4 linked regions of the Homo sapiens genome follow. The protein of the gene in region 1 purifies or fractionates together with the protein of each later gene. This does not show direct contact. Each region holds a gene or a part of one and is shown in the gene's direction. Other genes may lie near its edges. The genes, in order: GPBP1L1, PDCD2L, TC2N and KANSL2.

Region 1 (7,307 bases):
TGCTGAGATTACAGGCGTGAGCCACCATACCCAGCCCATAACAATATATTCTTAAACATTCATATATATGTATGTTTAAATATTCGTGTGTGTGTGTGTGTGTGTGTGTGTTTATGTGTATGTGTGTGTATATATATGTTTGTGGTTTTTTGTTTTGTTTTGTTTTGTTTTTTGAGACAGAATCTCACTCTGTCGCCCAGGCTAGAGTGCAGTGGTGCGATAGGAATCTGTATTTCAAACCAAACCTCATCTGTGGCATTGGGATCTTTGGCATTTACAAATTGGACTCTCCTGGTTTCTTCATTAGACATGTTGATAGCCAAGAACATGGGAAGTCTTTAACATATCTAAATGATGGGTTTAGAATCCAGTATTGTAGGATTAAGATTGATCGATGTACCTTCTCCTCTTTGCTAATGGTGTATACCTTTGCTCCAGTTTGCCTCATCAGAGGGTTTCATGGCAGACTCCAATCCCTGATTACCTCATCTCTCTATTCTCATGCTGACAGGAGCTGCTACTTTTAGGTGTTTTTTTTTGTTTTGTTTTTGTTTTTTTGAGTTAGGGTCTGACTTTGTCATCCATGCTGGAGTGCAGTGGCACAGTCATGGCTCGCTGCAGCCTCGACCTGGGCTCAAGTGATTCTCCCGCCTCAGCCTCCTAAGTAGCTGGGACCACAGGTGTGCACCACCATGCCTGGCTAATGTTTGTATTTTTTGTAAAGATGGGGATTTGCCACAGGGTTTGCCAGCCCAGGCTGGTCTCGAACTCTTGGGACTCAAGTGATCTGCCCACCTCAGCACCTCCAAGTGCTGAGATTACAGGCATGAGCCACAGTGCCTGGCGCTTGGATTTATTCTTGTTGGGTTCATGCTTAACTGATCACACTGTCCATCAGACATATTGTGCCCCTGAAGGACTGCTAACATCTTTGGACTTCCTGGCTGATTTATAAATTTAGTATCCAGTTCCTCATATGCTGCATTTTTTTGTACAGTTCCTGAGTAGTCTCACTTTTGAGAGTATCTATTAAGTGCATACCAGGGAATGTTTAATCCCTCTGTCTCAACTGTCAGCTGTTTTGTTGACTAAGGCCTTTGTATAAACTATGCTTCATGTTACACAACAGGTTTGACATTCTGTTGTCTCTCCACTCTTGTACTTCACAGAAAACCCGCCTAGTGCCAAGCAACCCTCCAAGATGCTAGTTATCAAAAAAGTTTCCAAAGAGGATCCTGCTGCTGCCTTCTCTGCTGCATTCACCTCACCAGGATCTCACCATGCAAATGGGAACAAATTGTCATCCGTGGTTCCAAGTGTCTATAAGAACCTGGTTCCTAAGCCTGTACCACCTCCTTCCAAGGTATGATTTAGAATCAGGGCAAGAACCTTATACAAGAGAGGTTTGGGAATAAATCAGGAAAAAATTAATAAATTTGTTTTTTCTTGCCGCATCAGTCACCAGATATTCTTTCAGTACCTGTTATATGTATACAGCTTTCTTTGCTTTTTTTTTTTTCTTTTTCTTTATTTTTTTGAGACAAGGTCTCACTCTGTCACCCAGGCTGGAATGCAGTGGCACAATCATGGCTCAGTGTGACCTCAGCCTCCCAAGTAGCTGAAACTACAGGGGCACGCCATTATGCCCGGCTATTTTTTTTATTTATTTTATTTTTTGTTTTGTTTTGTTTTTTTGAGATGGAGCCTCGCTCTGTCACCCAGGCTGGAGTGCAGTGGCACGATCTCAGCTCACTGCAAGCTCCACCTCCTGGGTTCACACCATTCTTCCTCAGCCTCCCGAGTAGCTGGGACTACAGGCGCCCGCCACCACACCCGGCTCGGTGTTTTTTTGTATTTTTAGTAGAGACGGGGTTTCACCGTTGTTAGCCAGGATGGTCTCAATCTCCTGACCTCGTGATCCGCCCGCCTCGGCCTCCCAAGGTGCTGGGATTACAGGCGTGAGCCGCCACGCCCAGCCATTTTTTTTTTTTTTTTTTTAATTATTTTTTGTAGAGACAGAATCTCATTTTGTTGCCCAGGCTGGTCTCTATCTCCTGGCCTCAAGGAATCCTCCTGCCTCAGCCTCCCAGAGCGCTGAGATTATGGGCGTGAGCCACCACACCTGGCCCCTCTGGTTTTCTGTAATAGCAACAACATCCTAATCACTCAGCTTGACTATCTTGGCTACTTCTCTTCTCTTCCTCCTTAGTCATTCTCCTCAGCCAAGGAATTACAAAGTCCCTGTTATTCTCTCTATGCTGTCCTTGTTCAGGACTTTGTCTTCTCACATTTACTGTTCTAGTATACCTTTCTATTTTCTCATGTCTCTGTGTCCTACAGAACTGCCAGAATGATCATTCCAAAAACAATTGAATATATCACATGCCTTCCTGAATTCCTTCAGTGGCTCCAAACAATGTATGGCAGGGATTGGTAATTTTTTTCTATGAAGGGCCAGATAATAAATATTTTAGGCTTTGCTTGATATATATGATTTTTGTTACACATTGCCTTTTTTTTTTCCAGCTCTTTAAAAATGTAAAAATAAGTATGAGCTCATGAATCATACAGAAATGCCTTGGTCAAGATTTGGCCCATGGGTCATAGTGTGCTAGTCCTATAGTCAGTGTGCAGAGTAAGCAGAGGTCTGTGAAGTTTCTCATAGCCAAACTCTAATCCATCTTTTGCATCTTATTGCCCCTTTTTTCTCTTACCCGGGAAGAAATTATTCTTCTGGCGCATGCCATCCTCTCTGTGAATAATTTTCTTTCTTTTCTTTCATCTATTTATTTAAAATAGTGATTGGGGTCTCACTATATTGCCCAGGCTGGTCTCGAACTTCTGGGCTCAAGCCATCCTCCCACCTTGACCTCACAAAGTGCTAGGATTACAGACGTGAGCCACCGTGCTCACCCTCTGAATAAATTCACTGGGAGTTACTATCCTAGTGATAATGATTGGAGTTTTCAAGGTAGATTAGATATACAAGAGAAGAGGATGGAAGAAGAGAAGAGGATAGAAGAGGAGTAAAGAATGGGATAGTACTGAGAAACTAGTTCAGAAAAAAATGGTAAACTCTCACAGAAATACAAGTGGGTGAGTTTGCAATAGCAACAGGGGTAACAAGTTGAGGAAAATAACTGAGAAAAAACCTTAGTGATTATCTTAGGAGACTTTTGAGTTGATGTTTTTAGGGAATAAAGTAGGGCTGAAACAGTATTTCAAGGGCTTTTGGAAATATGTGGAGGTAGTGGCACCTTTTAACCTTGACAGTAAAAGGAACTAGATAGAATATAGGCAGTGGAAAAGATAAGTGAATGGATGAGGAAGTCTGTTGGAAGAAGCCACTGGAAGCAACTTGAACTGTACTTGGAAGAGATCATTAAAGGATTATGGGCCAAGAAGAAATATGTGGGAATAAAACTAATTGACAAGTACAGTTATCTTTGAAAAGGGTTTAGGATACTTAGGGTTTATTTTCCTCTGATGTAGAAGGGAAAGAATGTGAATTCAAGTGAAGAGAGCAACTATTACAAAGAAACAGCTGAGCATGGAAGTTAACTGCCGGGCTATGGAATAGACAGATTTCACCTTACACCTTCTTCATCTTACGTCCTTGAGCAAGTTTCTTCACTTCCCAGTCTCAGTTTCTTCTTCTATAAAATAGACATAACAATGCCCCCCTTTTTTTTGTGAGGAGTAAATGAGAAAATTTTATGAAATACCTAAAACTGGCATATAATAAGTGCCAATAAATGGTAGCTATTGTTACCAACCTGCCAGCACAACTTATGTTTGTCCCATTTCTTGAGAGTTTATAAAGACTTTCTTAAGTGTTACTTTAAGATGTCTGCAAGCATTCTGCAGGACTACAGAAAATATAAAAATGAGTAAGAAAATGTCATTGTGTCCTCAAGGATCTCATAAATCAAAAGGTAAAAAAATTTTTACAAGGATAAAAATTATGATACAAAACTTAAGATCACTTTAGCCCTGTTGTGAGTCAGGGGTAGAATGAAGATTGGAAAACTAATATAAAGGCTGCTGCTCTTGAAGCTTGAAGAGGATGGTAACAGTTGGCAGAGAATGGCAGAGATGGTAACAGTTGGCAGAGGTGGTAATGGCAGATAGTGGGAGGCAAATTAGGCAGCAAAAGAAAACAGAAGACATTCTTCCTGGGAAAATTGGGGTAAATATGGAAGGTCAGGTTTCAGGAAATGTGATTGTGGTTCTGGGTACGTAGGATATGAGATGTTAGAGGGAGGAAGAGGTAAGATAACTAATAAGCAGATGTTGATTTATCCATTCATTTTATCTAAACATTAGCAATAATTATTGAGTATCTGAGTAGTAAACACTGTGTCACTAGAGACACAAAATAATACTTGGCCTGTAATCGCAAAGAGTTTACTGTCTAGTGAAGAAAGAGTTATTTGAAAAAAATTGTGCTTCTCTGCCTGGGGAGGGTCATCAAAGTCTTTACGGATAACTGGGATTCAAATACATGATAAAGGAAAGAGAACTGCCATTTGTTGACATCTTACTATGTTGCTTGGTTAGGGCTTTTACACATATTAAAGCATTTACTCTTTTAATCCTGGGATATAGAGAATACACACTGTGGGGTTACATAGCTAATAAGTGATAGAGTCAGGCTTTTAACTCAGGTCTGACTTCAAAACCAGGGCTCTTTCTACTGTTCCAGAATGCCTCCTGTCTTGAAGGATGAAGAATAGAAGAGGAAGTTGAGAAATTAATCTTTTGACTCAAACTTAACTAAGTTGAAATCTTTGTGACACTTTCTAGGGTTGTGATCTTAAGCAAGTTATTAGATTTTGCTAAACTCTTCTTGACAGTAAATTGGAGCAAGTACTTGGAATATAGTTTTTGAAACATCCTAATTACCCAGTAAGTGGACGTTTAAAAACAGTAGTACAGTAGTTCATTAGAAAGCAAGTAGGTAGGGCATTCTCGGCAGAGGGAACCTGTTGTTAACCAGAAAATGGATGCAGAATATGGTATGTTTGGAGTAAAGGAACCATATTGGTTCGGTATGGCTGGTATGTGAAAGTGAATGGGGAAGTCAGACTTGATGGAGGCCTGTATAAAAAGAACAGGAGAGAAGTTAAAGTAGGTAGAGATGCAATTTTACATATTATCTACACAATTTTAACATTTTAAACTGAAACAGTTATAAGTAATTGCTTTTTCTAATGAAATTCACCTAGTTCAACAGACTACAGAAGAAGAAGAGTACTGAGTCTGGAATGCTAGTATACTTACATCCATTGAAAAGAAGGGAATTCAAGAGGTAAAGAGAGAACTGAGAGAGTGAAGCATCAGGAAATCAAGAAGGGAAAAAGGGACAGGTTCAGAAAATATTCATAATGAGCAATATCGCATTTCCCAAAGAAGACAGGTTTTTTAGAGCTGGCCTTTGTAATATAAGGATGAAAGTTTTGGTTATTTATGAAAGAGTTTTACTAAAATTGGGGATAGAGGTGAGTATTGCAGGGAACTAAGCAGTAAATAGTTAATGAACGAGTGAAAGATAATGTATACTGACTTACTCAGAAGTTTGGCAATAAGAAGGTGGTATATAAGATTGAGGGAAAATAAGAAGTCTGGCCTTTTTCTCCTAATTTCAATAAGGTGGATTAGCATATTTGATAAACCCAAAAGGAAAGAGAAGAAAGTGCTAGAAAGGGAGGAGGACATTCCTTTGAACTTGAGGGGCAAACGGCAGAGGAGGTGGGAGAAAGTTTGAGCCCAGTGATTTTAGAATTTTTAGTCCAGTAGAAGAAGATTCTGAAGTGGAGCAAGCTAGGGTTGATTCAGAATTTAGAGGAAAAGGAGAGAACATTTAAAAAACAACAACAAAAAAAACTGGTTATACAATTCACTTTAATGGACTTTTACATGTATAATCATCTAATAAAAACAGGTGTGGGGCATAATGATTTTTCCAGGGGGTAGTCTAGCTATCTCATAGGGTTTAAGTTACTGAAAATTAAGTTGAAATAAAATTGGCACAGACATAGATATTCTGTTTTATGTAACAGAGTAAATCTTTTGTACTACTGTGGCAGAAACCCAAGTGTTTCTGTGCTCTGGAGTGACATTGTTTTAAAGACAGGACATCTGGTGACTACAACTCAGGGGAAGCCACAAATCATCTTTGAGAGTTAACCTGACACAAGCAACCATCTTTAGATTTTTATCAATGCAAGAAAAAAATTAATCTTCATTCTGGTTGGGTCATCGTTTCTCTTATCTGCTTGCTTGTTCTTTGTGGAGGCATTTTGGGATAGTGGAAAGGTGGTTTCATTTACTAGCTGAATAACCTTGAACAAATTGTGGAACTTCCTTATTGTCAGTGTCATCCTCTATTAAAAGTCAGCGTAACAATTATTATTCCTGATTGGTTTAAGAATTAAATAAAACAGACTGACCATCACCTGGTACATGGTAGATAGTAAAGTTAATTCCTTTCCTAAAGCTATTATTGTGTCTTCTTTTAATACCCATCAATCAAGAAAGCAACCAGGAAGGGAATCCATTTCACTCAGGCCCCTTTGTCCTGGAGGTCCTCTGTTCTAAGTGTTTCATTCTGGAAAAATAAGTTGGAAGTTTTTCATTTGCTTCAGCACCACTCCACTGGCTTGCCACATCTTCCTTGGTCTCCTTGGACAGTGTGGTAACTCAGTATTCCAGCTTTCTATCATACTTGGGGTTATGGCCAGAGTGACAGAATGGGCCCAGACCCTGCAGAGTTGAGTAGACGGGCCTCCAGACTAAATAAATCAGGATTGTTCAACCATTTACAATAGCCACCCTGGCCTGGAACTAGCCTTTTGCCATCAGAGTTCCTGGAAAGCAGCAATTTTGTGATGCACTTTGTGGGCTATCAGGATTACATCCAAAGTTAACAAACACTACTAAAAAAAGTTTTGGGATTCAATAAATTAGGAAAATGCTGCATAACTGCCTCTCAAATTCTTATGTGCAGTTAAGTGCTTTGAGAAATTGCACAGTGAAGAACCTTGTTGAACTTTTTTCACCCCGGCACCTCCCAAACTCATTGAACTATTGAACTAGAGCCCTGTTTTTGGGAAGTCACTATTAATGTCCAATGGCTCTTCTGTATCCCATCTACCATTTTCCTTGAAGTGCCTAACCTCCGAAAGAGGTTGCATACTTCCCAAACATGTTAAGACAGGTAAGCCCTGGAAACTTATGTTCTCATGTAACATTTCACTCTTTGCTTTATGATTTTATAAGCTGAGCTTCTGTTTGTGTGCTTGTTC
Region 2 (5,577 bases), on another chromosome or scaffold:
CTTTGAGACTTTGAATCGAACACTGACAAGATTTCCAGATATCTTGCTATGCTTTACAGCCATGGTGCTAGGTTTTTGGGCCTCTGGGAGATTTCTGCAAGAAACAAAGAAAGGTTGCAAAGCATGGCCTTAGATGCTAGAATGCGACTTGTGTGGCTCTGATTCGGGGTTCTTTGTTTCCTTGTCCTAGGTATTCCTGGAGTGGAGAGCCACTCTTTTTGACCTGCCCTACATCAGAAGTCACCGAGCTCCCAGCCTGCAGCCAGTGTGGAGGCCAAAGGATATTTGAGTTTCAGCTTATGCCAGCACTGGTCAGCATGCTCAAGAGTGCTAATTTAGGTGAGAAGCCCTTTATTAATTTGAGTTTGTGGATTTCTGGCATTATTTTTAAATAAATGAAAAACCTTTTGTTTACTTATAAAATATCATAAGCAAATTACAGAAAATTTGGGAATTAAAAAATTATTTTAAGAAATTTAGGCCAGGTGTGGTGGCTCATGCCTGTAATCCCAGCACTTTGGGAGGCCAAGGCGGGTGGATCACAAGGTCAGGAGATCGAGGCCATCCTGGCCAATGTGGTGAAACCCTGTCTCTACTATAATATAAAAAATTAGCTGGGCGTGGTGGCACGTGCCTGTAGTCCCAGCTCCTTGGGAGGTTGAGGCAGGGAATCGCTTGAACCCAGGAGGTAGAGGTTGCAGTGAGCCAAGATCGCACCACTCTACTCCAGCCTGGCGACAGAGTGAGGAGACTCTGTCTCAAAAAAAAAAAAAGAAATTTATAATCCAGCCAGTCTTTTTTTTTTTTTTTTAATATTTATTGATTGATTTATTTATTGAGATGGAGTCTCTCTCTGTCGCCCAGGCTGGAGTGCAGTGGCACGTTCTTGGCTCACTGCAACCTCCAGCTCCCGGGGTCTAGCAATTCCCCTCCCTCAGCCTCCCTAGTAGCTGGGATTACAGGTGCCCGCCACCACGCCCGGCTAGTTTTTGTATTTTTAGTAGTGATAGGGTTTCACTGTGTTGGCCAGGATGGAATTTTTGTATTTTTTGTAGAGACAAGGTTGCGTCATGTTGCCCAGGCTGGTCTCGAACTCCTAGACTCAAGCGATCCTCCCGCCTTGGCCTCCCAAAGTGATTACAAGCATGAACCATGCCTGGCCAGAAATTAAAACTATTATCAATGTTAATAACCATTATTCCAACAATCATTTTTGACATAAAGACAAATAGCAAGTCAGATGAATGTATGGATGGCTAGACGAAAATAATTTTCCTAAAATAGGAAAATTCACTAATATGGTAATTAAAAGTCTTAGAACAAATTTTTGTACAAATTAACAGAAGGAATGTTAAGTATAAGTGAAGCAGTTACTGGATTTTTTTTTTTTTCCTTCTTTTTTCTTGAGACGGAGTCTTGCTCTGTCGCCCAGGCTGGAGTGCAGTGGCATAATCTCAGCTCACTGCAAGCTCCGCCTCCCGGGTTCATGCCATTCTCCTGCCTCAGCCTCCCAAGGAGCTGGGACTACAGGCGCCCGCAACCAAGCCCAGCTAATTTTTTTTTGTATTTTTAGTAGAGACGGGGTTTCACTGTGTTAGCCAGGATGGTGTTGATCTCCTGACCTTGTGATCCGCCCACCTCAGCCTCCCAAAGTGCTGGGATTACAGGCGTGAGCTGCCACGCCTGGCCTGGACTTTTGGTAATAGGTTCTTTACCTAAGAGGCCCAAGTTTCTGAAAGGTGCTTCTGCTATTAACAGAAAATAACATTCTTTCTGTGTTTCAGTTTTAGATAGTATGCATCTGGCTCCTTACCATAGTAGATAAGGAAATTTATACCCTATTCCTACCTTGAAATATTTCAGTATCTTTTTTGTTTTTTGAGACGGAGTTTCACCCAGGTTGGAGTGCAATGGTGCTATCTCGGCTCACTGCAACCTCTGCCTCCCAGGTTCAAGTGATTCTCCTGCCTCAGCCTCCTGAGTAGCTGGGATTACAGGTGCCCACCACCACACCCAGCTAATTTTTTATATTTTTGGTAGAAACAGGTTTCACTGTTGTTGGCCAGGCTGGTCTCAAACTCCTGACCTCAAGCTCCCGACCTGCCTCGGCATCCCAAAGTGCTTGGATTATAGGCATGAGCCACCGTGCCTGGACCCAGTATCTTTTTTTTTTTTTTTTTTTTTGAGATGGAGCCTCACTCTGTCGCCCAGCCTGGAGTACAGTGGCACTATCTCGGCTCATTGCAACCTCTGCCTCCCAGGTTCAAGCGATTCTCCTGCCTCAGCCTCTTGAGTAGCTGGGATTACAGGCGCCCACCACCACGCCCTGCTAATGTTGTATTTTTAATAGAGACGGGGTTTCGCCATGTTGGCTGGTCTTGAACTCCTGACCTCAAGTGATCCGTCCACCTCGACCTCCCAAAGTGCTGGGATTTACAGGCATGAGCCACCGCGCCTGGCCAGTATCATAATTATCACAGCTATTTGGATAGCCTTAGTTCTATGTGTAAATGGATTCAGTGTTTATCACCACTCTTAGAGTGAGCTTTTTTATTCCTGTTTTATTTTGATTCTTTTTGCAGTAGCTGGATTTTCTCAAGTAATAGCTTTAAGGAGGGCTCAGAGGTATCTTGCTTCAGATTGTGCATGGTAATGTGGCTTCATATTTGAGGGGCAACCCATGTATAAAATTTTTAAATCCCACTTTCTCTTTTCAGAACCTTGTATAGACCCCTGTGTTGTCTTCTGACAGTGAAAGCCCTGCCAGCCCTTTGCCCTGGTGCCTCCTGTCATTTCTTGGTGGTTCAGTCTCACTGGGAAATATATTTTTCTGGAAGGGCTTATGGGCATTCTAGTCTCTGAGATTTTTCACTCATATAGAAATGTCTTTTGCATGGAATGTAGCTTTGTAGAGGTATGAGGGTGGTCTGATTTTTTCCCCCTTTGTGACTAACATTTTTGCCACAATACTGTTAGCAGCGGTGAATCTGTAGGGGTCTGTAGCAACCTCAGTTCTTGCCTCCTCCGAAGAAAGAATTTGACCGAGGCACATAAGACAGAGGAGAGACCGAAGCAAATTTTAGAGCAGGAGTGAAAACTTACTAAAAAGTTTTAGAGCAAGAACGAAAGGAAGTAAATATAGTTGGAAGAGGGCCAAGCAGGCAACCTGAGAGATTCAAGTGTCCATTTGACCTTTGACTTGGGGTTTTATACTTCCTGGGTCTTGGGTTACTTCTCTTGTTTCTTCCCTTGGGGTGGGCTGTCCACATGCATAGTGGCCCTCCAGCACTTGGGAGAGGCCGCATGCGCAGTGTGTTTACTGGAGTTGTAGACTTGCTCACTTGAGGCGCTTTTCCCTTACCAGTCAGATGCTCCTAGAGGAATGTCATATACCAGTTAAACTCTGCCATTTTTTCATTTTTTTTTTTTTTTTTGAGACAGAGTCTCACTCTGTTGCCCAGGCTGGAGTGCAGTGGCACAATCTCTTCTCACTGCAACCTGTGCCTCCCAGGTTCAAGCAATTCTCCTGCCTCAGCCTCCCAAGTAGCTGGGATTACAGGTGCCTACCACCACGCCCAGCTAATTTTTTGTATTGTTAGTAGAGACGGGGTTTCACCATGTTGGCCAGGCTGGTCTTGAACTCCTGACCTCAGGTGATCCATATACCACAGCCTCCCAATGTGCTGGGATTACAAGCATGAGCCAATGTGCTGTGCCCAGCCAATGCATACATTTTTAAACAATGTATTTCTCCTTTGCTGCTGCAAATCATTGCCTACGTCATCCTCTTGACTCCTGCTTTTCTGTTCTAATATCAGGAGTTCTTATTGCTTATGTTTTCTTGGTATCTTTTTTTAATGGCTTTATTCATTGATAATTTTCTGTAAACTCTTAGGGTTTATTTTATATTTTTTGCCTGAATCCTTATCCTTTCTCGGCAGTAGTGTGTCCTATGATATATATTTCTCTCTTCTTTTTTTTTTTTTTTTTAAGACAGGGTCTCGCTCTATCACCCGGGCCAGAGTACGGTGGTGCAATCATAGCTTATTGCAGCCTTTATCTCCTGGGCTCAAGTGATCCTTCTGCCTTAGTCTCCTCTGAGTAGCTGGGACTACAGGTGTGCACCGTTACACCCAGTGAATTTTTTTTTTTTTAGTAAAGTCTCACTGTGTTGCCCAGGCTATATGAGATATATATATATTTTGTTTGTTTGTTTGTTTGTTTTGTTTTTTGTAGAGACAGGTGTCTCACTATGTTGCCTAGGCTGGGCTCAAGCTGTCCTTCCCCGTCGGCCTCCCAAAGTGCAGGGATCACAGTTGTGAGCCACCGCACCTAGCCAAAAGCTATGTATATCACATGAACCATGTAGATTAATATAGATTTTCAACATCAGATAGCTAGACAGTTATAATGAACACTTGCTGAAATTTTTGTTTATTTTTAAAGTATATTTTCCTGCCACTTTAAATTAATTTTGCTTTTTTGTTATCAATATTCACTTATTATAGGATAGACTGTGATTCTGTTATAGCTGAAAGCAGTAAGCACTGTTTTTGCTTTACCTAATTACTTTTTCAGCTTATAAGGTAAAATCATTCCTTTTAGTAACATCAGTCTCATAACTCTTTTTGCTGGAAGCCTGAATATGTGGTATTTTTCAGGTCTTTCTGTGGAATTTGGAACAATTCTAGTTTACACATGTGAGAAGAGTTGCTGGCCCCCAAATCATCAGACTCCCATGGAAGAATTTTGTATTATACAAGAAGACCCAGATGAATTATTGTTTAAGTAGAGCATTTCCTTTTATTAATATAAATTAAAACAAATGTTTACATCCAAATATGTTTGTATGTACCTTATTTTAACTCACAAGTTATTAACCTCTGTTTTTCTGAGTTGCCTTTTTGCCTTTGGGTGCTGGTGCCGGGGCCGGGGCCGGGCCAGGACCTCCTGACTGTGGGTTGGTCTGCCCTTCCAGGGTCCAGGGCCAGCTGTCACAGTGGCAGCTAGGAAGGTAGCTCCTCTCTAGTCCAGAGGGCTGGTGTTGTCTGCACAGCCGTTCTGGTGGGCATTCTAGGGGGGAGGAGAGCAGCGAAAGAGCCAAGAGCAGTGGTCAGCCTCTTGTGTACACCTCTGACACGTGCACTCCAGTGCTTCCTATGCTGTTTCTGGCACCTGATCAAGCCACTGAACCTGCTCTAGCTGCTGGAGGTTTTTGCTCTGTGACCCTGGCTGTTTAGACCTGCCCATGTTCATCAGCCCAGGTCCCCGCCCTCACCCACTCCCATCTTCTGCTCCTGCAGTATCCCAGGAAGGGGTCTTTACTCCGTTCTGGAGACTGTCCCTTTATCCAGCTGCCTTCCAGTCTTCCCCTTTCTTTATTTTTAACATGATCAACCCCTTCCCTTCAGCCCCATAACAGCAGTATAAAAACACTCCCAGCCATGTTCAGACATGCTCTGCCTACGTAGATGAGGATAATGAGGCCTAGGTGATCATGGGGTGGGCTTGTTTCTTGCATTTAACATTATATTTGGAGCATTTTCCCATTAATATTTTTCCCACAACATAATTTAT
Region 3 (7,923 bases), on another chromosome or scaffold:
CTTGCAGCTTCTGGGCACAGGGCTGGGCTCTGCAGTGTATGGGAAGTGATTGTCCAGCCCATCCCTTTTCTTCTTCACACTGTTTCCTCTAACAGTGCCAATATCTGTCCCTTGCACTGACCGCGAGCATCTCTCATTAGGTGGGTGCTAGGAAGAAGTGAAACACACATCAGCCTCTTCTGATACCTGCTGTGCAGTGAAAAAAGCCTGGGGCTTGGGGTCAGAAATACCTGAATGGAAGCCCTTGGTTCTGCCCAAGACTAGCTGGGTAACCCTAAGCAATTATTTAACCTCATGGGACCTCAGTTTGCTTACTTATAAAACGGGGAAGTAATGAGTCATACCTTTCATACAGCACTTAGACAAGGACAGCCAGGGCCCCCCCACCTGGGTCCTGTGCTTTTAGATCAATATTTCTCAATACTTAATGTGCACACAAAGCCCTGGGGATTGTGTTAAGCCACAGATTCTGGCTCAGTAGATCCTAGCCCTGAGATTCTGCATTTATAAGAAGCTCCCTGGTGATGCCCATGCTGCTGGTCCAGGGACCACACTTTGAGTGGCAAGGCCTTTCAGGGTTTTATGAGAATTTTTTTTTTTTTTTTTAGCTGGAGTCTCGCCGTTGTCCAGGGTGGAGTATAGTGGTGCGATCTCTATTCACTGCAACCTCTGCCCCCCAGGTTCAAGCAATTCTTGTGCCTCAGCCTCCCAAGTAGCTGGGATTACAGGCACCTGCCAACATGCCCTGCTAATTTTTCTAGTTTTAGTAGAGATGGGGTTTCACCATATCAGCCAGGCTGGTCTCCAACTCCTGGCCTCAAGTGATCCGCCCACCTCGGCCTCCCAAATGCTGGGATTACAGTTGTGAGCCATGGTGCCTGGCCATTTTATGAGGATTAAATAAGCAGATGTACATAAACATGGTTAGAAGAGTGCCTCACACATGATGGGTGCTCAGTTGATGTCATTCCTCTCTGCCTTCCTCCTTGAAAGTTTTAGAAAAAGACTCAGTGGAGGAGAGAGTTCACGCGAAATTATTAGGACCACAGTGATCAGGTTACAGAATGGTGAAGCTGGAGATGACTCTAGGGTGCCTAGAGGGGGGTTCTTAAATTCCACCTTTCCCAGGCATCACCTAAAAATATACTGACATAGAAAATCTTGGAATGGGCCCCTGGAATTGTTAGTTTAACAAAAAAAGTTCCAGTAGCCTTTGATGCCTTTTTTTTTTTTTTTTTAAATTACTGATCTGGTCCAAACCCTCATTTTATTTTTCCTCAAAAACGTTTTTTAAAACTTTTATTCCACTTTCAAGAGTACATGTGCATGTTGGTTGTATAGATAAATTACTGTGTCGTAGGAGTTTGGTGTATATATGATGTCATCACCCAGGTAATAAGCATAGTACCCAGTAGGTAGTTTTTCAATCCCCTCCCTCCTCCTGCCTCCCACCCTGAAGCAGGCCCTGGTGCCTGTTTTTCCCTTCTTTGTGTCCATGTGTATGTACTCAATGCCAAACCCTCATTTGAGAGATGAGCCCCAGAGGGGTGAAGTGACAGCCCTAAGCCATGCAGAAGTTTCAATCAATGATTCGTTCATCATTCAATATATGTTTTCTGAACACCTTCTGTGTTCAAGGCACCATGCTGGCTTCTAGGGGGACTCAGTGGTGAAAAGCCTGACCCCAGTACCTGTTCTTACAGAACTCATAGCCTAGTGGGAGCCTAGATATCAGACACGGATCAGGTAGACAGTATGGACAATCATACATGGTCATAAATGCTTTCCATCCTGTACAAAGTAAAGGCTGCAGCGTCAGAGGTCGCAGGGGGACCTGACTTAGATTGGGGAACCAGAGAAGGCTCCTCTTAGGAAGTGACCTTTCAGATGAGACCTGAAGGGTTTGCAGAAAAGAACCAGGTGGAGAGTGGGCAAAGCCAGGGAAAGAGCATGGCACAGTTGAGGCACCGAGGGGGTGCCAGTTTGACTGACGGAGGCAAGGGAGCGCCCAGGTGGGGCTGCAGGGCCACCATGCAGGCCTTTTCTCACTGGTGTTCCCCGGTTCTGTCCATAGCAAACGGGCCCCATCAGTGCCACCCTGGTGATGACACGCCCCATCAAAGGGCCCCGGGAAATCCAGCTGGACTTGGAAATGATCACTGTCAACACTGTCATCAACTTCAGAGGCAGCTCCGTGATCCGACTGCGGATATATGTGTCGCAGTACCCATTCTGAGCCTCGGGCTGGAGCCTCCGACGCTGCCTCTCATTGGCACCAAGGGACAGGAGAAGAGAGGAAATAACAGAGAGAATGAGAGCGACACAGACGTTAGGCATTTCCTGCTGAACGTTTCCCCGAAGAGTCAGCCCCGACTTCCTGACTCTCACCTGTACTATTGCAGACCTGTCACCCTGCAGGACTTGCCACCCCCAGTTCCTATGACACAGTTATCAAAAAGTATTATCATTGCTCCCCTGATAGAAGATTGTTGGTGAATTTTCAAGGCCTTCAGTTTATTTCCACTATTTTCAAAGAAAATAGATTAGGTTTGCGGGGGTCTGAGTCTATGTTCAAAGACTGTGAACAGCTTGCTGTCACTTCTTCACCTCTTCCACTCCTTCTCTCACTGTGTTACTGCTTTGCAAAGACCCGGGAGCTGGCGGGGAACCCTGGGAGTAGCTAGTTTGCTTTTTGCGTACACAGAGAAGGCTATGTAAACAAACCACAGCAGGATCGAAGGGTTTTTAGAGAATGTGTTTCAAAACCATGCCTGGTATTTTCAACCATAAAAGAAGTTTCAGTTGTCCTTAAATTTGTATAACGGTTTAATTCTGTCTTGTTCATTTTGAGTATTTTTAAAAAATATGTCGTAGAATTCCTTCGAAAGGCCTTCAGACACATGCTATGTTCTGTCTTCCCAAACCCAGTCTCCTCTCCATTTTAGCCCAGTGTTTTCTTTGAGGACCCCTTAATCTTGCTTTCTTTAGAATTTTTACCCAATTGGATTGGAATGCAGAGGTCTCCAAACTGATTAAATATTTGAAGAGAGCTTGTGTTTGGTTCATTTTGACATCATAGACGAGTCAGCCTTTGGGGTTCTAGTTCTGTTTAAACCTGTTTATTGTGCGCTGGCTTAGAAAGCTCTCCAGAGAGCTAGGGCATTATCTGTGACTCTGGCAAATTGATGGGAGGGGGGCGGTGGGGCAGAGAAATAGGGGTCGTGGGGAAGTTAGGGGGAGGCATCATCCCTGAGTCCTGTTTCATCTGATTAGAAAACAACCAACAATCCTTCTCTTACGTAGATTATTTCCGGTGCTCCTGCAGAACAGGAATGTATTCAAGTTACTTTAAACCAGTGGCCTTCAACCCTGGCTGCATAGACGGATAACCAGTAGAACTTTGGAGGAAAGATTGATTCCCCGGGACATGCCCCCAGACACTCTGATGTCATTGGGCTTAGGTAGGGCCCGGCCATCAGGATTTTTGAAAACTTGACTATGTAGCCAGAGTTGAGAATGTATTGTTATAAACCCTAGAAAGAGAGGTGGACAGATGGGGCTGGAGCCCTAGCTGCCTTGCCCTCAATGTCTTTTCTGCTCATTGTAGGATACATTATTCTTTTCCTGGTCAGGGCCTCTGGACATCCTTCAAGTCTTAGAACCCTGTGCAGGGGCCAAGAGAGTCAACATTGCAAGTCACAGGAGAACAGGTTGGGATGGCTGTCTTTATGTGCCATCCCAGGAATCAACCCAAGGCTTCAGGAAAAAAGTGCACTCCCTGATAGCTGAGGTGGAGTCTACAGATCCATCTGAGGGTGCTCCCATCCTACCTGTTGGTGAGGTATTCATTAAGGACCCCCACAGTGCCTATCAGGAGTTGTGTCCTGGACCCCTAGTCTTAGTAGGCATTCCACAGATCCTTGTGATATGGACAGGAGACAGGGAAATACTGGGTAGAAGAGGGTGGTTCCCTGGCAAAGGCCCCACCCTCAAGCCTGGGTACCCATGGCCCTAAATGAGGACAGCCATTCCTGTTTTCATCCCTAAAAAGTTGCCTTTTGGCCTGCCATGTCCCCTATCCTGTACCCATATAAACCCTGAACCCCAGGCTCCAGGCTCCAGAAGCAGACGGGGAGACAAGAAGATGAGCAGACATGAATGGCAGAAAAGCACGGCAAAGAAGGAGAGAAGAGAAGGAACATTGGGAGGAATTCGACTGGAGACGATCTGAAAACTGGCCACTGGATGGCCAAACTCCAGGGGAAGATCATCTTCCCACTCCATCCCCTGTCCAGCTCCCCATCCATCCTACTTAGAGCCACCTCCACCACTCAATAAAACCCCTGCATTCATCCTGCAAATCCATGTGTGACCTGATCCCTCCGGGATGCTGGACAAGAGCTCGGGATACAGGAAACTGTCACACTGGCCCTCTGCCCTGGCAAAAAGGGAGAGGGTCCACTAAGCTGGTTAACGCTTAAGCTGTCCACGGATGGCAAGGCTGAAAGACTGCACTGTTTCAGTGCCTACTCGGGCTTTGGAAGTCACAGACACCGACCCCGGGATGCTGTCATGGGGCTGGGGCCCAAAAGTGCTCACCCTGGTTCCTGCACCTGCCTGTCTGCGTGCTCCCCTTCCCATAAGGGGTTTTAGCTTGGGGTGGCTGAAGAGAGAGCCACACCCCTGTTGCACATCCTGTGAGGGGGCCAGGGAATTCTCCTGTTCCACTTAGTAGTATCTTAGGCCTTCAGTGGAAGGAAACAGCATGTTCCACGCCCTGTAGCATCCAAGAAGCTGCAAGTCCTCCCTCCTCACCCCAAGAGCATTTCTCACACCCACACCACACACCTCACTTTGCTGTTGGCTGTGGTTATTTTTTTCTCTAACTAAGCACATCTAAACCATGCCTAGTTGTGGTTCTTCAGTCAGGGTCAAGTGGTGTTAGCAATCACATCAGCACCAAATGGCTCAGGATGCTCTGGTTTCAAAGCTTATAAAACAGAGGGTGATTCCCTTGGGACTCACTCAGCTCGGCTCCGAAAAGCAAAGGCCAGAAGGCAGCAGTGAGCCTGGGTCCCTGCTGTGTAGGGAGACTCAGGGGCTGGGAAGAAGGATGGAATCAGAAATGCTGAAGGTTTACGTGAGCTTTGCACCGAGCGCCTCCGAACCACTGCCTCTGGGCTCAACAGAACACAGGGGTAAGTCTCCATGAACTTCTCAAAAAGAAAACTGGGAAGCTTTCTGTCTTGATGATTTGAGGACCCACTGGTTTCAGAGGTGCCACATTTGGAACCAGATCCGAGTCTTTAAGGTTTGTGTTTTATTTGTTCATGTCAAAATGTGGCTTCCTGCTTCTAAGAAAAGAAACTCAGGCTCATAAAAGCAGCCTCCAAGGGCTTCTTGGACCTCAAATTGCGCTTTCAAAATGTGGTCTGATGGGTTCAGTGTAAATGCACCAGAGGCATGTGGGATCCATTTACCTTAAAATACACTTGGGCCTAAAAATTAAGAGAAAAACAGTCCAGGGCAAAGTGTATACTGCAAAGTCAAGCTCCAAACATTTGGGAAACAGTTCTAGAGGCTGCTGGAACCCCAAATGCTACTTGCTTTACCTACCCCTTGGGAATCATCAAATGTTATTTTTTGTACAAGACTGGGGATGAGCCTGCTCTCTGATCCCAGTGCTGTGCTCTGCTGTGCAGTTCTAATGGGGCAGGCTGTTTCCTGGACCCTGAGATCTCCAGGCTCCCTGTGCCTATTCCTTGTCAGCTTTGCCCCATCCAGGAGCTGGGCTGAGCTTGTCAAGTGACCTCTGCTTTGTACCACTCCATCAGGTCCTGAAGAATGAAGGGTACCAAGGTGGAAGGGGCGCAGGATTAAGAGTAGGGACGCCTGCAAAAGCTCTCGTGTTACCACCTCATCTTCCAACTTTCATGTGGGTGAAAACGTTCATCCTAAATAATTGCTTCTAATTCTGAAGTTTTGTGATTCCTTGAAATGTACTTTGGGGATGACAGCCAGCATTTCCATTTCACTGCAATTTCAGAGTTTTGCAGTGGTTTGCCAATCATAACACTTTCTAATTGGCACAAAATCCACCTACCTGTTGCCTCTCAGGCTTGGGTAACATACTTCAGACACTTTCTTAGGTAAGTCTTGGCCCTTGGGGTGTTATTTGCCCAGATGGTAAAAACATTTAAGTAGGTCTGATTATTTCATTTTCAGTGGTTTCAACGCATTTTTGTGGCCTGGGTGGTTACTGTAATGTGCCCAAGTTGTTCATTCTGAGCCAACGGGGTCACCCACAGAGAGAAGACTTGACAAAGGAACTCTCCTCTACTCCCCTCTTGCCAGATGAAATATTGTTTGTAAAAGGTCTTTGTCTTGAGAGGATCACATACTTTGGTTAAGAATCCACTTTGGTTAAGCCGGTTGCTGGATTCAGAGACATGAACAGGATAGACAGTCCACCGATAACTTTATAATAACACCTTTTTAATAACACCTTTAATAACTTTTTAATAACTTTAAAAGTTATTAAAACTTTATAAAAAGTTAATCTAAAACTTTAATAACTTTTTAATAACACCTTTAGCCAGGGGTTTATGCAGCATACACGACAAAACTGGAATATAATGTGGTAGGTGCAGTAGCAGGGTCCACAAAATTATTTTAGTTAGATTTTAAAAATTATTAAGACATCTGTTTTATACAAGAAAAATTCTTATGAAAATTTATAGACATGTGTTTGAAATTTAGAATAAGTTGCCTCTGCTTAGAATTATTAAGTATTTTGAAAGGAAACACTAATAAATGCTAGATAAACTTTTTCTTTTTGATACAATTTGTGTTTACTTTAAATGCAATATTTTTTTATCTGAAAAAAAACGTGAGCACTTAGCAAATCTCTTCATTATTTTGGAATTGGCCAATGCTTATAAACTACAAACAAATATACAGATTGTTCCTTGTGCTGATATTTTTGTTTTCAAATTTCTTAGTCCTGTTACTTAACAAATGGCTGATATCTTTGTTGGAATCCCTGAACATAGCTAAAAGATGTTTTTTTAAAAAAAAAAAAAAAAAAAAACCAAGAGGCTCCAAGACAAAGGAGTGCACAGAGGCAAAATTTATCACTTTGGTAGCTTTTGCGGGGATGAAAGCCTCCAGTTAGAATGTTTGACTTACTAATGGTTCTTAATAATGAATCTTAGCCAGCAGCCATCAGAGAAATAAATCATTAAAGTGAGAAAATAGGTGTCAACACAGGAGTGATCTACTGAATTGCCATTTTGGTGTTCTTTCAGAGGGGAACTGCATGTTGACAGGCAGTGACTTTTTCAGGAATTTGGGATATTCTTGAGCAATAATGTAAAGATGAAGGCAGGGGGCTGGGCACAGGGGCTCATGCCTGTAATCTGGGAGGCCGAAGTGGGCAGATCACTTGAGGCCAGGAGTTCAAGACCAGCCTGGTCGACATGGTGAAACCCGTCTCTACTAAAAATACAAAAATTAGGTGGGAGTGGTGGCACACACCTATAATCCCAGCTACTCAGAGACTGAGGCAGGAGAATTGCTTGAACCCAGGAGGCAGAGGTTGCAGTGAGCTGAGATTGCACCATTGCATTTCAGCCTGGGCAACAGAGCGAGAGTCTGTCTCAAAAAAAAAAAAAAAAAAAAAAGATGAAGGCAGGGTAAATTGTACACACATACAAATACAGTGCCATTATGATACCTGTTTATTAGGATTTGAGAAATTAATTAACATTGATTTAAGGCCACAGAGTCATTGGATCACTTGATTCTGTTTAAAAGAAGTTTTCGTTTGGGTAGGATTGTTTTGGTTTCAACCTGTTCCTTTTTTCTAAGTCTTCGTTTCCAACCTTCTACTCAGAATGAATTTGACATTGCAAAACTGGCTTG
Region 4 (8,303 bases), on another chromosome or scaffold:
TTTACAAACTGTATACCGCTCCTGAAAAGAATATGAAATCGGAAATCTTTGCAGAAGTTGCTGATAGAATAGGAAGATGCTGACAGTTTAGGAATTCTGGTGTGGTTTGAAGCACTCCCCTGCTTTTCATTCATTCCTTCTTTAGAAAATAATACCTACTTCCCAACACTTTCGGAGGCTGAGGTGGGAGGATTGCTTGAGGCCAGGAGTTCAAGACCAACCTGAGCAACAAAGTGAGACCCCATCTCTGCACACAGACATACAAATTAGCCAGGCACAGTAGTGTATAGTCCCAGCTACTAGGGAGGCTGAGGAGGGAGGATTGTTTGAGCCCAGCAATTGGAGGCTGCAGTGAGCCATGATTGACCACTGCACTCCTGCTGGGCTATAGATCTATACCCAGTCTCGGGAAAAAAAAGTTAAAAAAAAAAAAACTAAGTGCTGTGGACTGTACTAATGGGAATATGGCAGTAAACAAACATTCTGCCTTCAAAGAATTTACAAATAAGTAAAACATAGTATGTTAGGTGGTGATAAGCACTTAAAAAAAATTTTTTTTTTTGAGACGAAGTCTCACTGTCTCCCAGGCCAGAGTGCAGTGGTGAGATAACAGCTCACTGCATCCTTGACCTCCCTAGGCTCAAGTGATCCTCCCATCTCCTGAGTAACTGGGACTACAGGTGTGCACCACCACGCCTGGCTAATTTTTTTAGAGATGGGGTCACCCTATGTTGCCCAGTCTGGTCTTGAACTCCTGGGCTTAAGCGATCTGCCCGTCTGGGCCTCCTTCACTCTTGTTGGGATTATAGGTGTGAGCCACCACACCTGGCCATAATAAGCACTTTGGAGACTAAAACAGGGAATAGGGGATAGGGATGTGTGTGTGCATGTGTGTGTGTGAGCACGTGTGTGTGTTTAGGTAACTAGGGCTGTGGGAATTGGAAAAAAGGTGGCTAGGGAAGGCTTCATGACCAGAAGCTTCATGACCTTTAGGGAAGACCTGAAGGAGGTGACAGCAAGTCATGGGAATAACTAGGATAAGATCATTCCAGGAAACGTGAGACATCAAAGGTTCTGAGGTGAGAATATGCTGGTATGTTTGAGAAATAGCAAGGAAACCAGTGTAGCTGGTATAGGAATGAGTGGGGAGGGGGTATTGGAGAGAGGAGAGTAGCAGGATATGAGGTTAGAGAGGCAATAGAAAGCCAGATACAACAGGACCTTGTATAAAGACAGTGAATGGAACAGACGCTATTGGAAAGTTTTGAGAAGGGAAATGACATCCAACTTAGGTTTTAAAATGTTCATTTGGGCTGCTGTGTTGAAAATAGATCATAGGAGTCAAGGGCAAGGAGCTCTCACAATTTAGGTAAGAGATGAGGGTGGCTTGGACAGGTTGGAAGTACCCAAGGTAATGAGAAGTGATGTATCTTTTTTTTTTTTCTTTGAGATGGAGTTTTGCTCTTGTTGCCCAGGCTGGAATGGAATGGCGTGATCTCAGCTCACTGCAACCTCCGCCTCTCAGGTTCAAGCGATTCTCCTGCCTCAGCCTCCCAAGTAGCTGGGATTACAGGCATGTGCCACCACACCCGGCTAATTTTGTATTTTTAGTAGACACAGGGTTTCACCATGTTGGCCAGGCTGATCTTGAGCTCCTGACCTCAGGTGATCCACCCGCCTCAGCCTCCCAAAGTGCTGGGATTACAGGTGTGAACCACCTTGCTCAGCCGAGAAGTGATACAGCTTGAAGATGGAGCTAATAGGATTTGCTATGAGGTGGAAGAGAAGGAAGTGAAGGATAACTCCCAGTGTTTGTCCTGACCAACTGGAAGGTTGGGGTTGTCATATACTCAGGTAGAGATGACTACGGGAGTAGCGGGAGGTTGGCTTTAACATTAAATTTGAAATGCCAATTAGACATCCAAGTGGAGATGCCTACTGGACAGATGACTAGAGAGTCAAGTTCAAAGGAGGGATCCAGGCTGGATATATGCATTTGGGAGATAACAGCTTATGAATGGGATGAAACAGAGTGAGATAACTAAGGAAGTAGTAGTAGAAAATAGAAATGTTCAGTGTTTAGAATTGGGGAAAAGAGAAACGAGACAGAGAGTGGGTGACTGATGTAGATGGGAAACTAGGAAGAGTATGGAGATCTAGAAAGAGTATAGAGTTCTAAGGAGGAGGAGTGGCCAAGTGTGTTAGACATTGCAAAGTGGTCTAATAAGATGATGCCTGAAAACTTCATTAGAATTAGCAAGGTGAAGGTCTTTGATAACTTTTTTTTTTTTTTTTTGGAGACAGTCTTGCTCTGTCACCCAGGCTGGAGTACAGTGGCACAATCTTGGCTCACTGCACCCTCTGCCTCCTGGGTTCAAATGATTCTCCTGCTCAGCCTCCCAAGTAGCTGGGATTAAGGCACATGCCACCACACCTGGCTAGTTTTTGTACTTTTAGTAGAGATGGGGTTTTACCATGTTGGCCAAGCTGGTCTTGAACTCCTCGCCTCAGGTGATCCACCCGCCTCGGCCTCTCAAAGTGCTGTGGTTATAGGCGTGAGCCACTGCGCCCAGCCGTTTTCATCTTTTTTCTCACTTTTCTCTAGGATTAGCCCCCCAAACTCTAGTTTCCTAATCCCTATTTACAAATAGCTTCTGGTCTACTTTAACCTCTTCAATAGCTACAAAGTGTTCAGTGAATTAAAAATAACCATCTACCTCCAGCCTGGGCAACAGAGCAAGACTCCATCTCAAAAAAAAAAAAAAAGCCATCTACTTTGTTAAACAGAACAAAGAATTTGCTGACATCTTGAGCTCTTAATATCTGCTCCCTCCTTTCACTTAGAAGTGGTTCTAGGCCGGGCATGGTGGCTCACGCCTGTAATCCCAGCACTTTGGGAGCCTGAGGTGGGCAGATCACGAGGTCAGGAGTTGGAGACCAGCCTGGTCAATATGGTGAAACCCTGTCTCTATTAAGAATATAAAAAAATTAGCCGAGCATGGTGGCGCACACCTGTTGTCCCAGTTACTTGGGGGGTAGGCTGAGGAAGAAGAATCCCTTGAACCCAGGAGGCGGAGGTTGCAGTGAGCCGAGATCGCGCGCCACTGCACTCCAGCCAGCCGGGGCGACAGAGCAAGACTCCCGCTAAAAAAAAAAAAAAAAAAAAGAAGTGGTTCTAAATAGTAATGTTTTGTCTGTCTTGGACTTACAAGAAGGATTCTTTTTTCAACTAAGACCTTCAGTAAATTCATTGAAAGAAAGTCTTTTGTTTCTTCCCCATCTATTCCTGTGTCTCTTCATATTGTTCACTACAGTAGTTTTAATGTTGCTTTTTGATATTACTACATTTGGTTGCAGATTCGGATTCCCAAATTTTCTGTGACATGACTGCCTCTGGCTGTTTTTTAATTATAGGGTGTTTATAACAAAACATCTTTTTTCGTACTCCTGAGGGTTGGTCTGTTTGCTTATGTATATAAATCATTGTTATTAATATTATGTTTGTATTGCATCCATAATCCAAAGCTATCCTAGAATGTTCACTCCAAGAGAGCAGGGTTATCTTCCTTGTTCTCTCCTGGCACTTAGGTGCTCAATAAATATTCGTTGAATGAATGAATTTCAGGCCTTCTTCTAGGGCTGCTCTAGTCTCTGGAAACAGCACAACCCCCAAGGTTTTTTTTTTTTTTTAATAATTTATCGGTCCTATAGTGTATTTATTTATTTATTTATTTATTTATTTATTTATTTATTTGAGATGAGGTGTCTCCATATTGCCCAGGCTGGGATCGAACTCCTGAGCTCAGGTGATCTTCCCACCTCAGCTTTTCAAAGTGCTGGGATTACAGTGGTGAACCATGACGCCCAGCCTTAGTGTTTTTCTTGAGGGCTGTGGAATCTTTATGTTCACTTCCACTGGGACTCATGCTCACTTGCTCGTTAGGCATGGATAAAACATCTTTCTTAAACTGACAGTGAGGAGATAAGAGATGCTGGAAAGCAAAAAATGTCTAGAAGGGTTATGGGAAGAAAGCTAGGAATCATTTCTACAAGTGGTGGAGATGACAGAAAGATGCTTTTAAACTAAAAATCCTTAAAGGATGGTATGATTGGTATTGTGTCTGTCATTTTTATGATACCTGCATTATTTAGCATGGAATTTTAAAGACAGGGCACACAGTTATGAGAAGCAGCCCTAAACTAGAACAAATATTTCCTTATTCTCAGTCCAATGCTCTTTACTATATAAGAGGCAATAAGGGATAAAGAATGCGGGCTGGGTTCAAATTCGTCTTCCTTTCCCATTTAATAGCTATGGTCCCATTCTGTTCCTCAGTCCTCTTATCTGTAAAATGGACATAATACTAACCTGTACCTCTTAGGGTTGCTTTGAAAAATTCAATGACTTTATACATGTAATTCCCAGAATCAGTAAACACCCAAAAAATGTTTCTCAGTGTTCTCTATACCAAATGTTCAGTACATGTATTGAACTGTTCACAAAAGAAAGCTAAAGACTTTTTATGTGTAAACAGTGATCCTCCAGCCTCTGTCTGATTTATTTTTTATTTATATATTTTTTTGAGACGGAGTTTCGCTCTTGTTGCCCAGGCTGGAGTGCAATGGCGCGATATCGGCTCACCGCAATCTCCGCCTCCCAGGTTCAAGAGATTCTCCTGTCTCAGCCTCCCGAGTAGCTGGAATTACAGGCGTGCACCACCACGCCCGGCTAATTTTGTATTTTTAGTAGAGACGGCGTTTCTCCATGTTGCTCAGGCTGGACTCGAGCTCCCGACCTCAGGTGATCTGCCAGCCTCAGCCTCCCAAAGTGTTGGGATTACAGGCGTGAGCCACCGCGCCCGGCCTGTCTGTCTGATTTTATACTAGCTGTGTACAGTGGTGAGGGAACAGCAGCCTAGGACCACAGACTGAGGGTCCAAAAGTAGCCGGAAAACGAGCCACGCTGCAAGGTGGAAAAATATTAGCTGGCAACCCGCCCCGCAGCCCGCTCTCCGCCCCCTTCCCCGGCTCACTCTCCTCCGGGCGGAGTTGCTGACAGACAGTCTGTCTTAGCCACCCCAACCTCGCATTTTCTCAGCGCTCCGCCCTCCCAGACACGATAGGTAGTTGGTCTCGGCCAATGGCGACATCCTGTCATACGAGCGGTAGCCAATGAGTAGCCAGGAGTCCGGAAAGGGGCGAGGCCGATCTGAGAGCCGCTGGCGCCACTAGAGAAGGGCGAGCGGCGCGGCAGAGTGCGGCGCAGCGCAGCTCCTGAGGTAAGATGGCGGTGCTCTTTCCTCTAAGCTCTTGCGGTTGGGCTGCTATTTCGCTCTTTTTGTCAGCTCAGAGCTGCTACTCCGCCTCAAAGCAGTGTCAGAGTCAGTCTCCTTCCTGCAGGCTTCCAGGAGCCAGGATCTCCGGTGACTGGAGCCGTAGGACAAAATGGCGCTCGCATAGGCTTCCGAGGCCAGGCCCAGTCGTGCGCTCTGAGGCAGGCCGGGACAAAGGCGGCGTGCGGGGAGGCGGCGTGGCCGCCGCGTGGGGCTGGTGTTGTCGCTTCCCTTCGTGCTGCAGCTGTGCGAGTCCTGAAGATACATTCAGCGTGGTGTGGTTCGGGGTGGGGCCGGGCATGGAGGGACACGCTAAAGGGAGGCAAAGCCACAGATGCCTGTGGAGACTTGGGGAGGGCGGCGGGGACTTACGGAGCGTACCTTACGGGGACGACTTCTGCATGTCCTTTGGAAACTGTCCGCGCGATCTGTGTGGAGCAGGAATTTTCGGGAAGGGTAAGGGCTTTTTGGTCTTTCGTTTGACCCCGCAGGTTTTGGTTATGAACAGGATTCGGATTCACGTCTTGCCAACCAATCGGGGGAGGATCACTCCAGTGCCCAGGTCTCAGGAACCTCTGTCTTGTGCATTCACTCATCGTCCATGCTCTCACCCTCGTCTGGAGGGGCAGGAGTTTTGCATTAAGCATATCCTTGAAGACAAGAATGCACCCTTCAAGCAGTGTAGTTATATATCGACGAAGAATGGAAAAAGATGTCCCAATGCTGCCCCAAAGCCAGAGAAGAAAGATGGGTATATATGTATAGATATATATGTCGTTTTTCTTAAAGCGAGGGGGTATGTGATATGATGCGGGCTTCAGCATAGCTGCCGCGTTTGAGATTTTGTCCTTGTAAATTTGGGGTTATGGTTGTATCCTTGGAAAACTGAAAAAACGGTGAAGACTGGAAAGACCCTTGAGTTGGATTACTTAGTTCACCTCTTTGGTTCTTTTCCCTTATCTGTAAAATAAAGGCATATTCTAAATTAGTCTTTTTTTTTTTTTTTTTTTTTTTAAGAGAGATGGGGTCTTGCTATTTTGACCAGGCCGGTCTCAAACTCCTGGCCTCAAGGTATCCTCCCATCTCGGCCTCCCAGAGTGCTGGGATTACAGGCGTGAGCGACCGCGCCCGGCCCTAAAGTTAATTTTTTGGCGGGGGGGCGGCGCACAGATTCTTGCTTTATTCCCCAGGCTGGAGTGCAGTGGAGATCTCGGCTCACTGCAACCTCCTCCTTCCAGGTTCAAGCGATTCTCCTGCCTCCTAAGTAGTTGGGACTTAAGGCGTGCGCCACTATGCCCGGCTAATTTTTGTACTTTTTAGTAGAGACGGGGTTTCACCATGTTGGCCAGGCTTGTTTTGAACTGCTGACCTCAGGTGATCCATCCGCCTCGGCCTCCCAGAGTGTTGGGATTACAGGAGTGAGCCACCGCACCTGGCCCCTAAAATTCTTCTTAATGGAGGGGTGTGTGGCTCTATTTGGCTGTCCATGAATTTTGTTAAATAACATGCAAAGTTATATATGTGTGTATTCTTCTGTAAGAGGCTTCATAGTTTTCATCATGTATGCAAAGGTATCCATGCAAAAACATAACCTGACTAGATAATTTTTTACGTATCTTATAGTTTTAAAATTGTGTCCCTGGCTGGTCGCAGTGGCTCATGCCTGTAATCCCAGCACTTTGGGAGGCCACGGGAGGAGGATCACTTGAGGCCAGGAGTTGGAGACCAACCCAGGCAATACAGTGAGACCCCGTCTCTACAGAAGATTAAAAAACTCGCTGGGCATAGTGGCGTGGACATGTAGTCCCCACTACTTGGGAGGCTGAGGTGGGAGGATCACTTGAGCCTGGGAGTTCCAGACCAGACTTGGCAACATAGACTTCGTTTCTACAAAAAACTAAAAAAAATTTGCTGGGCACAGTGGTGCATGCCTATAGTTCTAGCTACTTTGAGGCTGAGGCAGGAGGATCGCTTGAACCAAGCAGTTTAAGGCTACAGTGAACTATGATTGCACCACTGCACTTTAGCCTGGGCAACAGAGCAAGACCCAATCCCTTGCCTCAGCCTCCCAAAGTGCTGGGATTACAAGGGTGAACCACTTCATCCGTCCTGTTATTTCCCTTTAATAAAGTCAAATGAGTTGACCTTGGGCCAGTTAAATTCCTCTGACTTGCATTTTTAGAAATGAATGTAATAGTCATTTTAATTCCCTAAAAATGATTTAAAGATTAGGGACTGTGAACATTATTGAACGCTTTCAAGAAGGAACTTATAAAATATTAATGTTTTGTCTCTTCAGGGTGTCCTTCTGTGCTGAACATGTCCGTAGGAATGCCCTGGCACTTCATGCTCAAATGAAGAAGACCAACCCAGGGCCTGTGGGTGAAACACTCCTGTGCCAGCTGAGCTCATATGCTAAGACAGAGCTGGGGTCTCAGACTCCAGAAAGTAGTCGCAGTGAAGCCAGCCGAATACTAGGTAAGGACCTTCTCTCCTGGAATGAAAAAGGAGGAAGAAAGTTAAGGGGGAACTATTTTGGGTTAGCACAATGCCTTGATCTATTTGGCAATATTGTTAATTCATCAGGAATTTGGTGAGAATGCTGGGATTGCTTTGTTGTTTACCAGTTCTTTTGAATTTGAAGTTGTGTTTGCCTAGGTTTACTTTCCTGAGTTGGTGACCATTTCTTTCATTGCTTTTTTAATGCTCAGCAGCTTTGTTAGGTAATTTCAGGAAACAGTAATTTTAAGTTGATTTTTCTGTTTGAGAGGGCATGGTTTACTCATTTATGTTGTAAGTAATCTTACTTGGGTTGTATTTTCTTAAAGCGTTTTTATTTGCCAGTACCTTTGTACTAAGTGTTTTTTTTTTTGTTTTGTTTTTAAAATTTCAAGGTTTGGGTTGATAAAAGTAATCTAGTTTTGTGTGGTGGAGTTACAGAGGTGGGAAGTCTTAATGGCTGCTCTCCCT

What was found.
Region 2: the proteins of GPBP1L1 (region 1) and PDCD2L purify together in Homo sapiens (affinity purification with mass spectrometry; 2 studies listed by BioGRID and IntAct, with this or other methods). This does not show direct contact.
Region 3: the proteins of GPBP1L1 (region 1) and TC2N purify together in Homo sapiens (affinity purification with mass spectrometry; 2 studies listed by BioGRID and IntAct, with this or other methods). This does not show direct contact.
Region 4: the proteins of GPBP1L1 (region 1) and KANSL2 purify together in Homo sapiens (affinity purification with mass spectrometry; 2 studies listed by BioGRID and IntAct, with this or other methods). This does not show direct contact.

Annotation. Positions count from the first base shown.
Region 1 is NC_000001.11:45,634,266-45,641,572, reverse strand, and holds part of GPBP1L1 (vasculin-like protein 1), read left to right. Parts: intron 1-1,169; coding exon 1,170-1,363; intron 1,364-7,307. UniProt on the Homo sapiens protein: Possible transcription factor.
Region 2 is NC_000019.10:34,421,329-34,426,905, forward strand, and holds the end of PDCD2L (programmed cell death protein 2-like), read left to right. Parts: intron 1-190; coding exon 191-339; intron 340-4,661; coding exon 4,662-4,792; 3' UTR 4,793-4,840; downstream 4,841-5,577. UniProt on the Homo sapiens protein: Over-expression suppresses AP1, CREB, NFAT, and NF-kB transcriptional activation, and delays cell cycle progression at S phase.
Region 3 is NC_000014.9:91,864,537-91,872,459, reverse strand, and holds the start of TC2N (tandem C2 domains nuclear protein), read left to right. Parts: upstream 1-4,923; 5' UTR 4,924-5,198; intron 5,199-7,923. Other genes in the region: FBLN5 (fibulin-5 isoform 2 precursor), read left to right, coding at 2,075-2,236.
Region 4 is NC_000012.12:48,679,163-48,687,465, reverse strand, and holds the start of KANSL2 (KAT8 regulatory NSL complex subunit 2), read left to right. Parts: upstream 1-5,227; 5' UTR 5,228-5,279; intron 5,280-5,824; 5' UTR 5,825-5,833; coding exon 5,834-6,084; intron 6,085-7,632; coding exon 7,633-7,811; intron 7,812-8,303. UniProt on the Homo sapiens protein: Non-catalytic component of the NSL histone acetyltransferase complex, a multiprotein complex that mediates histone H4 acetylation at 'Lys-5'- and 'Lys-8' (H4K5ac and H4K8ac) at transcription start sites and promotes transcription initiation.